2 separate regions of the Homo sapiens genome follow, and region 1 is linked to region 2. The links come from fine-mapping of genetic effects on gene expression. A gene starts in region 2. The other region holds a variant in brackets. All regions are shown on one strand. Distances are between the middles of the regions.

Region 1 (5,357 bases), 23 kb after region 2:
AGTGACAGTGTGCACGGGTAGGTGACAGTATGCACAGGTATACAGCACAGGCATGAGGCTGTGGATGCGTGCGGGCACGCATGTGTAGGTGACAGTGTGCACATGTAGGTGACAGTGTGCACGGGTAGGTGACAGTGTGCACGGGTATACAGCACAGGCATGAGACTGTGGATGCGTGCAGGCACGCATGTGTAGGTGACAGTGTGCACGTGTAGGTGACAGTGTGCACAGGTAGGTGACAGCTGTGTGCACGTGTAGGTGATGGTGTGCACGGGTAGGTTACAGTGTGCATGGGTAGGTGACAGCTGTGTGCACGGGTAGGTGACAGCTGTGTGCACGGGTAGGTGACGGTGTGCACGGGTAGGTGACGGTGTGCACGGGTAGGTGACAGCTGTGTGCACGGGTAGGTGAAAGCTGTGTGCACGGGTAGGTGAAAGCTGTGTGCACAGGGAGGTGACAGTTGTGTGCACAGGGAGGTGACAGCTGTGTGCACGGGTAGGTGACAGTTATGTGCACGGGGAGGTGACAGCTGTGTGCATGGGGAGGTGACGGTGTGCAGAGGTAGGTGACAGCTGTGTGCACGGGGAGGTGACAGCTGTGTGCACGGGTAGGTGAAAGCTGTGTGCACGGGTAGGTGAAAGCTGTGTGCATGGGTAGGTGACAGTGTGCACGGGTAGGTGACAGTTGTGTGCATGACTCTGGCAGCGTGTGCGCATGTCCACCTGTGTTGCACATGTGTGAGATGGCAGGTGCATGTGTGTGAGCTCCTTCTACCTCCCTCCAGACGCCCCATGGCTCTGTGTTCTCACAGTGGAGCCCTGAGACCCCTAAGGCAGCAGAGCTGTGGGGGCAGAAGCCACCTTCAAGGGCCCCGGCTGCTCAGCTCTGCAGTGGGGGTCACGGCAGGGCCTCCCAGCAGGAACTGGGAGCCCAGCCCATGTTCCTGCTTTGGAAACCCAGCCCAGGAAGGGGGTTTGGGTGCAGGGGAGCCCCCTTATCTTGCTGGCCCTGGGGAGACCACGTGGTGAAGTCTCTTCTCCGGCAGGCGTCAAGCAGGGGTTGCCACAGCCCACACAGAAATCTGACCACGGCCTCCTGGGCTGCTGGGGCCCGGCCCACCCCTCTCAGGGAGGGTGAGGCATTGGGCAACCCTGGCCTCAGAGCCCAGCCCTGCCTGTGGCCGGACTGCCCGAGAGAACGCTGTCTCCACTCACCCCCACACCGTTTCCCCAGAAGCCATGTCCAGCTGCCTGGGCCAGGAGTGGCCCCCTCTAGCCAAACTTGCCTGCCCTGCCTCACCCTCCCAGGACCCCCATGCCTGCTGGGGAGGGCTGGGCTCACAGTGCCCTGGCAGCCCGACCCCCGTCCTGCTGCTGCTGGGCAGGGCCCACCTTCTCCTTCCTTGGCTTGGGACAGACCCTCGCTCAGGAGAATGGGGTGGCCAGGGCCCTGGGCACTCCCATGTCTACGGGATGGCTTTGCCATGAGGGCCTGGCACTCTGGAGGCCCCCTTTCTGCATGGAGGTCTCGTCTCACCCACTCTGGGGCCCACGTCTGTGCGGCGGCGTGCACTGGTCATCCTGGCTGAGACGTCCCAGGGCAGGAAGGTGCTGGGGCCAAGGGCAGTGGGTCCAGGACTAGCTGGAGAGGCGTGACAGAGGCGAGACACAGGTGAGACACACAGGTTGGCCCCGCACTGCCTCCCACCCCCTGGGGTGTGGAGAGGGAGGGTGCAGTCTAGGTTCACCCAGGGCAGCGGGGCCAGAGCTGCGCCTCTCCCACCTTCGAGGGGAAAGGATCCCATAAACAGTAAAAGGCAGGAGCAGGGAGCGGGAGCCGGGTGAAACCCTGGGGCCTTTCTTATTGCAGGTCGGGGCCTAGGGGACCCATGGGCTGCTGGGTCTCCAATGAACAGATTTCCAACAAACAGCGAGTCCCCCAGGCAGCCTCGTGCAGCCCTGGCTTCATCCCCACACCCGGCAGCCCTGGCAGCTCCCTTTCCCTCTTTGAGCCCCAGCTGTTGGGCTCTTTCGCTGACATCCAGCCCCCAGTGGCAGCTGGGGTAGCCTCAACCATGCTGGAAATGGAAGCTGCAAGGCCAGGGACCCTAGAGGAGTCCGGTACTGCTGTGGGTCACTGCCTCCTCCTGGAGCCAGCCTGATGGCTTTTGGGCACCTCTGGGCCTCCTGACTGTGGCCCAGGAGGGAGACAGGGAGGCTGCCCCATGCAGAGGCAAATGCAGAGGTTCAGGCCCAGCCACAGGTCCGGGACCGGCCCTGCGGGTGGGCTGGTGGTGGCTCCCGCCAGCGTTTCTCACCTGAGCAGAAACCCTGGGTGTGGTGGAGGGAGGTGCTGCCCAGGCTGTGGGGTGGCTGCTCCTGGCAGGGAGTTGTGGACCAGGTGATCCAGACGCAATCCCAGCCCGCCAAGTGCGTCAGCCGCTACCACTGAGCGCCCGGGTGCAGAGGCGGTGCAGGGCGGGGATGCCGGGGTCCCCGCTCACCTCCATGCCTGGCCTGGCAGGCGGCATGAGACTGCCTCGCCCCGCCCAGTCCCACTCCCACGGTGACGCCCGCCAGGCAGTCCTGTGGGGGAGGCCCGGGCTGTGCCAGGCGATGCACCGCGTCAGCCCCTGGGGACCTCAGGCACAATGGGCACCTACTCCCTTCCCCTAGAGCAAAGGCTGAGCTCACGGCTGGCAGCTGCCCAGCTCACACCCCTCCCCACCCACTGGGGCCCTGCTCTGCAGCGTCTGTGCCCCAGGGGTCATGTCGTGCGCCTGCACCTGAGTCTGCCGTGTTTGCTGGTGCCTGCGTGTGCACAGGTGCCTCTCGGGCCTCCTGGTCTGTGTGCCCGGGAGCACGGACACAGAT[C/G]CACCATGTGTGCCTCTGCGGGGACATCAGGCAGACGAGTACCCAATGCGGGGGCCAGGAATGGTGACGGCTGCGGCCATTCCGTGGGTGCCGCAGCTCAGAGGTGGGCAGGCAAGAGCACCCAAGTATGCACTGTCGGGCTCCACCAGGCAGGCCAGGGCAGGAGAAGACACAGGAGGGACTTCCCAGCCCACCTGCCAGGCTTCTCCCCTCACTGGGACAGGGTGCTGGGTGACCCAGGCTGAGCCCTGGCCTGGCCCACCTACCCCAGCTCTCATCTTGGGAGAGACTCAGCCCCTGCTTGGCAGGACCTGCAGCTCAGGTTCAGCTGTGGAACCACCACCCCCTGCACCACAGCTATGCTATGGGTGCCCAACAAGCCAGCTCCATGGCCAAGCTGAGACTTGACCCCCGATCTGGGTCTTCTGGAGGCTGACGGCAGGGGAACTGGTAGGTGACTGCTCCCCAGGCCTGCACAAGCCCACAGGAACCCAGGTGCCCCTTTGAGAGCTCTAGGCTGACAACGAGGCACGGGCACCATGAGGGACGGCGCTCAGGCCTGGCTTGTTGATGAGGGTCCGGCTCAGGTCAGGCCTTGAAGGCCCCTTGGCCGGCTGTCAGCTGGGCCAGCCCAGCTGGACACAGCGGCTCCAACAGCTGCTGTTGGGGCAGTGAGGTCGGCAGCCCCCAGTCTAGAGGGGTGGGGCCCCGTGGGGCAGGGTGGGGAGACTGTCCCAGCCAGAGAGGGGAGGCGTGCCTGGCCCTGACTTGGGCTGATTCAGACAAGGACCAGGAGGAGGCCTGGAGATAAGCCAGCCCTGGGGGAGGGGAGGCCGGGGCCAGGTGCCCGAGGGTGGACACGTCCCGGGGCTGGCCAGGGAGGAGCCTCGAGAGTGATGGGCGTGCTGGCCGGGAGGGCTTTGCTGCCGCACTCTGTTGGGGTGGCCGACTGGTGCTACTTGAGGGTTATGCGGTCCCTTCGGATCTGCACCAGCCCCTTCCTTTACAGATGAGGAAACTGAGTCATGGGAGCAGCAGCAGTGAGTCCAGGGCCTGTGGCCTCACCTCAGGGACTCTGGGGCTGGAACCCACGTCTCGGCTGAGGGCACGGTGGCAGCTGCCTCCAGTCGGGCCCCGGTGGGGACTCCGGGTCTGGAACCCGCGTCTCGGCTGAGGACACGGTGGCAGCTGCCTCCGGTCTGGGCCCCGGTGGGGACTCCGGGTCTGGAACCCGCATCTCGGCTGAGGGCACGGTGGCAGCTGCCTCTGGTCCAGGCCCTGCTGCTGTCACCGCTGGGGTCGTAACCAGGGTTTCAGGGCTGGCCCCGGAGCTGGACAGTGGCAGGCAGGGGCCAGGCGGACCTGAGACCAAGTGCTGGCCCATGAGATGCCCCTTCCACAGAGCTCTGAGACTTGGGCTCTACGAAGATCCCTGGCTGGACCAGCTGGGTATTCCCATGGCTCTGGTTGTGGGGGCTGGGGGTTGTCCGGGGCCGGCCCAGGGTCTGTGCCCAGGCCAAAGCTGCACGGTGCTTGCTGTCTGCAGGAGAGGCCGATAGGAGCCTGGACCACTGCGTCTGTCCTGGGTCCTGCTGGGGCCTCAGGGCAGGGAAGAGAGCTAGGAAAGGTCTGGGTGGCCAGACCTGTCCCTTGGAAGCCCCACTTCGGACACGTTCACGGTCATCCTTGGAGCCAGTCACTGAACATTTATTTGGAGTCCCTGGAGCCCTGCTGTAGCCAGGAGCCCAGGTTGTGGCATGGGGGACAGAGGAGGTGGGACCTGGCAGACCCACAGCTCCCAAGCTGGGGTCCCGGAGGCAGAGTGACAATGCATGGCTGTGTGGGAGCCAGGCAGGCGGTGACGTGGCAGAGCTGCCAGCAGGGGCCCAAGAGACTGCAGCAGGTTGGTGCTCACAGTGGATCTGAGGGATGGGCGTGCGTGGCAGGGCCTTGGCCATGGCCCCTGACCAACCCCTGTGCACCAAACACCACACTGAGCTCAGAATCCGGGCAGAGAGGGAACCACTGGTACAGTGAGGCCAAGGCACACGCAGCCGGGCCTGCAGACTCGAGCCCAGCAGGGACCATTAGGTCTCGGGAGGAGGCAGCTGAGGGCGACAGGATCTGCACAGAGCAGTGAGGGGCAGAGGACGCAGGGACCAGATGGGTCTCCCAGGCCAGGTGAGCCCAGAACGGCCCTTCCCAGCCCCTCTAGAGGGTAGGTTGGGGGCAGTAGCTCACCAGGCCCAGGAGCAGCCCATCCTGGAGGCAAAGCCTATCCCAAAACCTGGCCCTGCCTCTTCCTGAGGTGACCTTGAGTCCGTAAAACTGACGCCCCTGGGGTGACGCTTGAGAGCCGGAAGCTGTTCCAGGAGGAGGGAGGGGCCTCGGTTTCTCCCGGGGCATGTGGGCAGGAAGGCCCTCGGGATCCCGCATCAGTCCCACGGCCGCGGTGCGGTCGTCACCTGTGATCACGGCTGCCTG
Region 2 (5,357 bases):
AATATTTCTCTTATTCTGTGGCTTGGCTCTTTATTTTCTTCACGGCATCATTCAAAGAGCAGCAGTGTCAGTCATGGTTTCTGCCTTCTTTCTTCCATCTAACAGGTCTTTGCCTGTTCCAAGCCCACAAACACTTCCTCTTGAATTTCCTTCTAATGGTTTTATAGTTTCAGCCTTTATACTCAGGCCTATGGTTGGCTTTGAGTAAATTTTGCATATAATATGAGGTAGGAATCTACGTTCTTTCAATCACATAGACACATAGATATGGCCGGGCATGGTGGCTCATGCCTGTAATCCCAGCACTTTGGGAGGCCGAGGTGGGCGGATCACGAGGTCAGGAGATCGAGACCATCCCAGCTAACACGGTGAAACTCCATCTCTACTTAAAAAAAAAAGCCAGGCATGGTGGCGGGCGCTTGTAGTTCCAGCTACTCAGGAGGCCGAGGCAGGAGAATGGCATGAACCTGGGAGGCGGAGGTTGCAGTGAGCGGAGATCGCGCCACTGCACTCCAGCCTGGGCGACAGAGCAAGACTCCGTCTCAGAAAAAAAAAAAATCACACAGATATTCTTATTTTTCTTCTTTCTTTCTTTCTTTTTTTTTTCAGTAGAGACGGGGTTTCATCATGTTGGCCAGGATGGTCTTGATCTCTTGACCTCATGATCCACCTCGGCCTCCCAAAGTGCTGGGATTACAGGCGTGAGCCACCACGCCTGGGCTTTTTTTTTTTTTTTTTTTTTTTTGAGATGGAGTCTCGCTCTGTTGCCCAGGCTGGAGTGCAGTGGTGCCATCTCGGCTCACTGTAAGCTCTGCCTCCCGGGTTCACGCCATTCTCCTGCCTCAGCCTCCCGAGTAGCTGGGACTACAGGCGCCCGCCACCACGCCCGGCTAATTTTTTGTATTTTTAGTAGAGACGGGGTTTCACCGTGTTAGCCAAGATGGTCTCGATCTCCTGACCTCATGATCTGCCTGCCTCGGCCTCCAAAAGTGCTGGGATTACAGGCGTGAGTCACTGCGCCCGGCATTTTTTTTTTTTTTTTTTTTTTTTTTGAGACAGGGTCTTGCTCTGTTGCCCAGGCTGGAGTGCAGTGGCGTGATCTCGACTCACTGCAACCCCTACCTCCTGGGTTCAAGTGATTCTTCTGCCTCAGCCTCCTGAGTAACTAGGATTACAGGCATGTGCCACCACGCCCAGTTAATTTTCATATTTTTAGTAGAAACGGGGTTCCTCCATGTTGGCCAGGCTGGTCTCGAACTCCTGACCTCAGGTGATCCGCCCACCTCGGCCTACCAAAGTGCTGGGATGACAGGCGTGCGCCACCACACAGGGCCTCATTTAAAGATTCTTTATAGAGATGAGGTGTCACTACGTTGCCCAGGCTGGTCTTGAACTTCTGGCCTCAACGGACCCTCCCGCATCGGCCTCCCACGGTGCTGGCTGAAGGGTGAGCCCAGGCTGGCCACAGCGCGTTTTCATCATTGTCCGCAGCTTGCAGTCGGCTGGTTCAGAGCTTAGCCGGGCACATGGGCCCCTCTGAGGCTCCTGTTCAGGGCTCAGCCGTGTCTACGGGGCCCTCCGAGCTCTTCCTGGACCCTCCTCGGCTCCTTCAGTTCAGGGCTCAGCTGGGCACGTGGGCGCCTCCTTGGCTCCTCCGGCTCAGGCCTCTCCTCGAGCTCTGGGCCCTGAGTATTCTGGGCTCCTTCCTTGGTTTCCTTTGGCCTTTGGCCGGGAAAGTTGTGGGTGTCCGTGGCAGCCTGGGCCACTTCACAGCCCCGCAGCCAACCTGCGGCTCCTTCAGAGCAAAGCTGTGTGGACACAAAGGGAACGCCACTCGGAGCTGGCCTCTCCCTTTACCTGTGAGTTCCCGCCCAAGCCGGCTGCCTTCTGTCCCCTCCCCAGAGCCCTTGGGTAACTGGTTTGCTACAAGAGTGTCTGGAATTTTTCAGTTGTTCTCTGCGGAAGGGAGTTTTTAAAAGGCCCTTAATCCCTTCTTGACATTTGTAAGTTGACGCTTACACCTGGCAGCCTTGCTGAATTCTGTGTGCGTGAAGGTCCGATTCCACCGCGAGTCACGATAGAAAACCCACTCTGTGGAGAGACCAGAGATGACCGCCGCGCACACCTCCGTTCAGCACACAAACCTTTGCAGGTGTTCATAGCGGAGGCAGATTCCGTACTGGGGATAAGAGCTCACGACATGCTGGGAGGGGTTTCAGGGGCAGGGAGGGGGCTTCTGTGGCCCCAGGTCAGGAGGAGCAGCTCTTCCATCAGCAGCAGGCAGCCAGCCCAGATGCGTAGGGAAGACAGCTCCCACTTCGCCAGGCCAGAGAGCGCCCGGGGGCAGCTCTGTTCCAGTCGACCCTGCGAGAAAGGGGTGTGCGTGTGCCTGGAGCTGGGCCCCGTCCTGCCTCCCTGACCTGTGTGCTCCCACAGCCCTGAGACGGACGGCTCACAGCCTTGCGAGGCCCACACTGCACTGGGGGTCAGGCTTGTGCTCCCGGGAGTCCTGTCTGGGCTGCGTGGCCACCATCCAGAGCCTGCTGACCTGCGACTGGGGGGGCCAGTGCTCCCTGGGTTTCAGCACCTGAGAATCAGAGTGGGATCCCGTGAAACCTGGGCCCAGGCTCCCACCCACGCCCCACACCCACCCAGGGAAGCCATGAAACCTGGGCCCGGGCTCCTACACATGCCCCACACCCACCCAGGGCAGCCGTGAAACCTGGGCCCGGGCTCCCACCCTCGCCCACCGAGGGCAGCTTTGCCTTCCTGGGCATCCCTCCTCCCCCAGGCCTGGCCCGCTGCCTGTCCAAGGCTCCTGTGCGGGGTCTCCACCCACACATTCCTGGGGCGTGAGGCGCCACCACTCCCTGCTGCCCCGGGCAAAGCCGTCATTTGTTCCCTTTGACGGCCCGGGAGGCTGCCAGGCTCTCCACCCCCACTTCCCAATTGAGGAAACCGAGGCAGAGGAGGCTCAGGTGTGGCCAATCACCCTGCACATCAGAGTTACCCTGGGCAGGGCCCACTGAGACCTGGGAGGGGCCACTCGGGACCTGGAGGGCTGGGGGCTGCCCGGGCGTTAGGGGTAAAGCTCCCTACCCAACTGCGCAGAAGGCCTCAGAGGCCTGGGGGCTGGGCTTCCCCTTTCACATCGCCCTTTAGAGGCCCACGTGTGGGCATTGGCCCGCGATCTGAAAGGGGCTGTCCTGTTCCTCATGGGCGCTGCCAGCGCCACGCACTCCTCTTTCTGCCTGGCCGGCCACTCCCGTCTGCTGTGACGCGCGGACAGAGAGCTACCGGTGGACCCACGGTGCCTCCCTCCCTGGGATCTGTAAGTAACAACCTTTGAGCTCTTCCTGTTGTGGTGTGGATGGAATCTGCACCTTCCATCTGGAGAACTGGGGCCGCCCCAGGCCGGGCTTCCAGCACCAGAGCGATGGTCAGGCTTCAGCTGGACGCAGATTTCACCCCGCAGGGCACACGCAGACCCATTTGTTTGGAAGCGGCAGTCCTAAGGCAGTGCAGGTGCCTCCACGGCCCCAGCCCAGCTCTCCTGCAGGTGTAAAGGATGCAGATTCCAGGGCCCCCCATGGCCTGCAGAGGCCCCTCAGAGCAGGAAGGGCCGGGCTCTCGGGGAGCCCCCATCCCAGGTGCTGAGGTCCTTGGGTCACATGGAGCTGGGGTGGGGAGTGCCCAGGTCCCCTGTGATCCGATGGCCACGTTTCCCTCCTGGCTTCACGCACCCCAAGGGCTGGGGGTCCCACTCACTGCCCATTTTCTGGCTGTGGGGGGGGTCTGTTTTCTTCCACCTTCTCAAGGTGTTCAGAGCCTCAGGGGCCTCCCCACTTCCTCTGGGGCCTGGGGGAGTAGAGTCTGTCACCCGGAGGCTGTGTGCCTCCCCGCGACATTCCCCAGTGGCCGGGCCGACCAGGCAGGCTCTGCCTGTGGATGGGGCTGCTGAGCATGAGCGTGTGACCCCCATTTCTGAGCTGTGGGTGGACCCACCGGGCCTGGGCCAAGGTTTTCAGGAGGCAGCTCTATTCTACTCCGCCATGGTGGCCTCCCTGAAAGGGGTGAGTGTAGAAGCCAGTTCCCTCTTCTGCGAGCCCCACCCCTACCCCAGGAGGACAATTCTTGTTCAGGGAGGGTCTCCCCACCCACTTCCCCACCCCACAGTGGCCCACAGGCCCCACCCTAGAGAGTACAAGGGGCTCCCCAGGCTGCTCACTGGCCCAGCCCCGCCCCACCTGGACTGCACCTGAAAATGGGCTCAGAGAGGCCAAGTGGCCCAAAAAGACGCTGCTGGGTGGGAAGGGGCGGTGGCCTCTGTGCCCGCAGTGCCCCTCCTGCCTCAAGGGTGTTGTCTGCCTGGCAGAGCCTGGGGTGTTCACAAAGCCCAGGCACCTGCAGCTGAGGGCAGGGGAGAGGGAAGGGAGCCACATCCAGGCGACGGGGCTGCTCGTCCTCCTGTGCGAGAGTGGGGAGACTCAGGCCAGCCCAAGTGGGCGGCGGCCCCGGTTGCTTGATCTAAGCTCTGCTCACACTGCCCTGCCCTTCTGGGAGAGGGGTGGGCGCCAACTGACTCCTGGGCTGTCTGGGCTGGGGACCGGGATCTCAGACCCAGCCCCTCCCCTGGACAGGAGGAGCCAGTCCAGGGGACAGAGGGCTCAGTGGCTGGAGGGCAGGGCCAGGGTGCGGACACAAGCTGCAGGTACCACAGAAGTTTGCTCTGGGAGCCCCTCCTGGGCCCATGTGGCCCCAGGCTGGCCCAGGACAGAGGCGTGGGGTGGGAGCAGGGGGTCCCATCCTGAGTCACTGCCCTCCACAGACACAGACCATGGCCTTGCCAACGGCTCGACCCCTGTTGGGGTCCTGTGGGACCCCCGCCCTCGGCAGCCTCCTGTTCCTGCTCTTCAGCCTCGGTGCGTACTTGATGGGGCTGCTGGTGAGGTGGGGACGGCCCAGGGGCCTTGGGGGCCAGGCCCCCAGCAAGGCTTTGCCTGCCCCTGCCTTCTCCCTGGAGTGCCTGTGGTGGCCACGTCTCAGCAGCAGTCTCTGCCCCCAGAGGTGACTGGAGCTGGAGATCCAGCCAGGGAGTGATGGGGCTCAGGACACAGTGGGGATGTCTGTGGGATGGGTGGTCTGACCGGCCAAGCAGCCGGGTCTCAGGGAAAGATGTGGAAGGCCGGGCTCCCTGGTGGAGTCCCGACCCCTGTGCCTGGGGGACTGTGATGTCACGGGGTACATGGGCCTGAGCCACTGGCTTCTCTTTGGGGTGTGCACAGGGCTGGCTGTGGGGGCGGCCAGGCTCTGCCTCCTTCCTCCCCTGGGTCAGGGCACAGCCCAGAGGCCCGCCC

Alleles and levels. Alleles are on the strand shown, and positions count from the first base shown. SD is a standard deviation of normalised expression in the study named.
For the expression in cartilage of the gene that starts at base 2,891 in region 2, allele C in region 1 goes with a lower level than allele G (large effect, 0.90 SD a copy in Steinberg 2020).

The links. PIP is the estimated chance that this variant, and not a neighbour inherited with it, causes the effect. A credible set is the group of variants that fine-mapping cannot tell apart.
Region 1: its variant is the best candidate, but not a certain one, in a credible set for the expression of MSLN in cartilage (Steinberg 2020, PIP 0.69).

What each region holds. Positions count from the first base shown.
Region 1 is chr16:780,418-785,774 of GRCh38, forward strand. It overlaps RPUSD1 (RNA pseudouridine synthase domain containing 1), which reads right to left. Exons shown (of 6, transcript NM_058192.3): 6 at 4,557-5,357. It also overlaps the pseudogene MSLNL. Among named protein-coding and RNA genes, the nearest start is that of RPUSD1, 5.3 kb to the right of the region's middle. The variant C/G (reference allele first, on the strand shown) is at 2,874.
Region 2 is chr16:757,844-763,200 of GRCh38, forward strand. It overlaps MSLN (mesothelin), which reads left to right and starts at 2,891. Exons shown (of 18, transcript NM_005823.6): 1 at 2,891-2,978; 2 at 3,230-3,331; 3 at 4,829-4,922. The coding sequence starts at 4,838. RefSeq lists promoters at 1,472-3,321, 2,827-3,307, 2,829-2,847 and enhancers at 2,138-2,663, 2,829-2,847.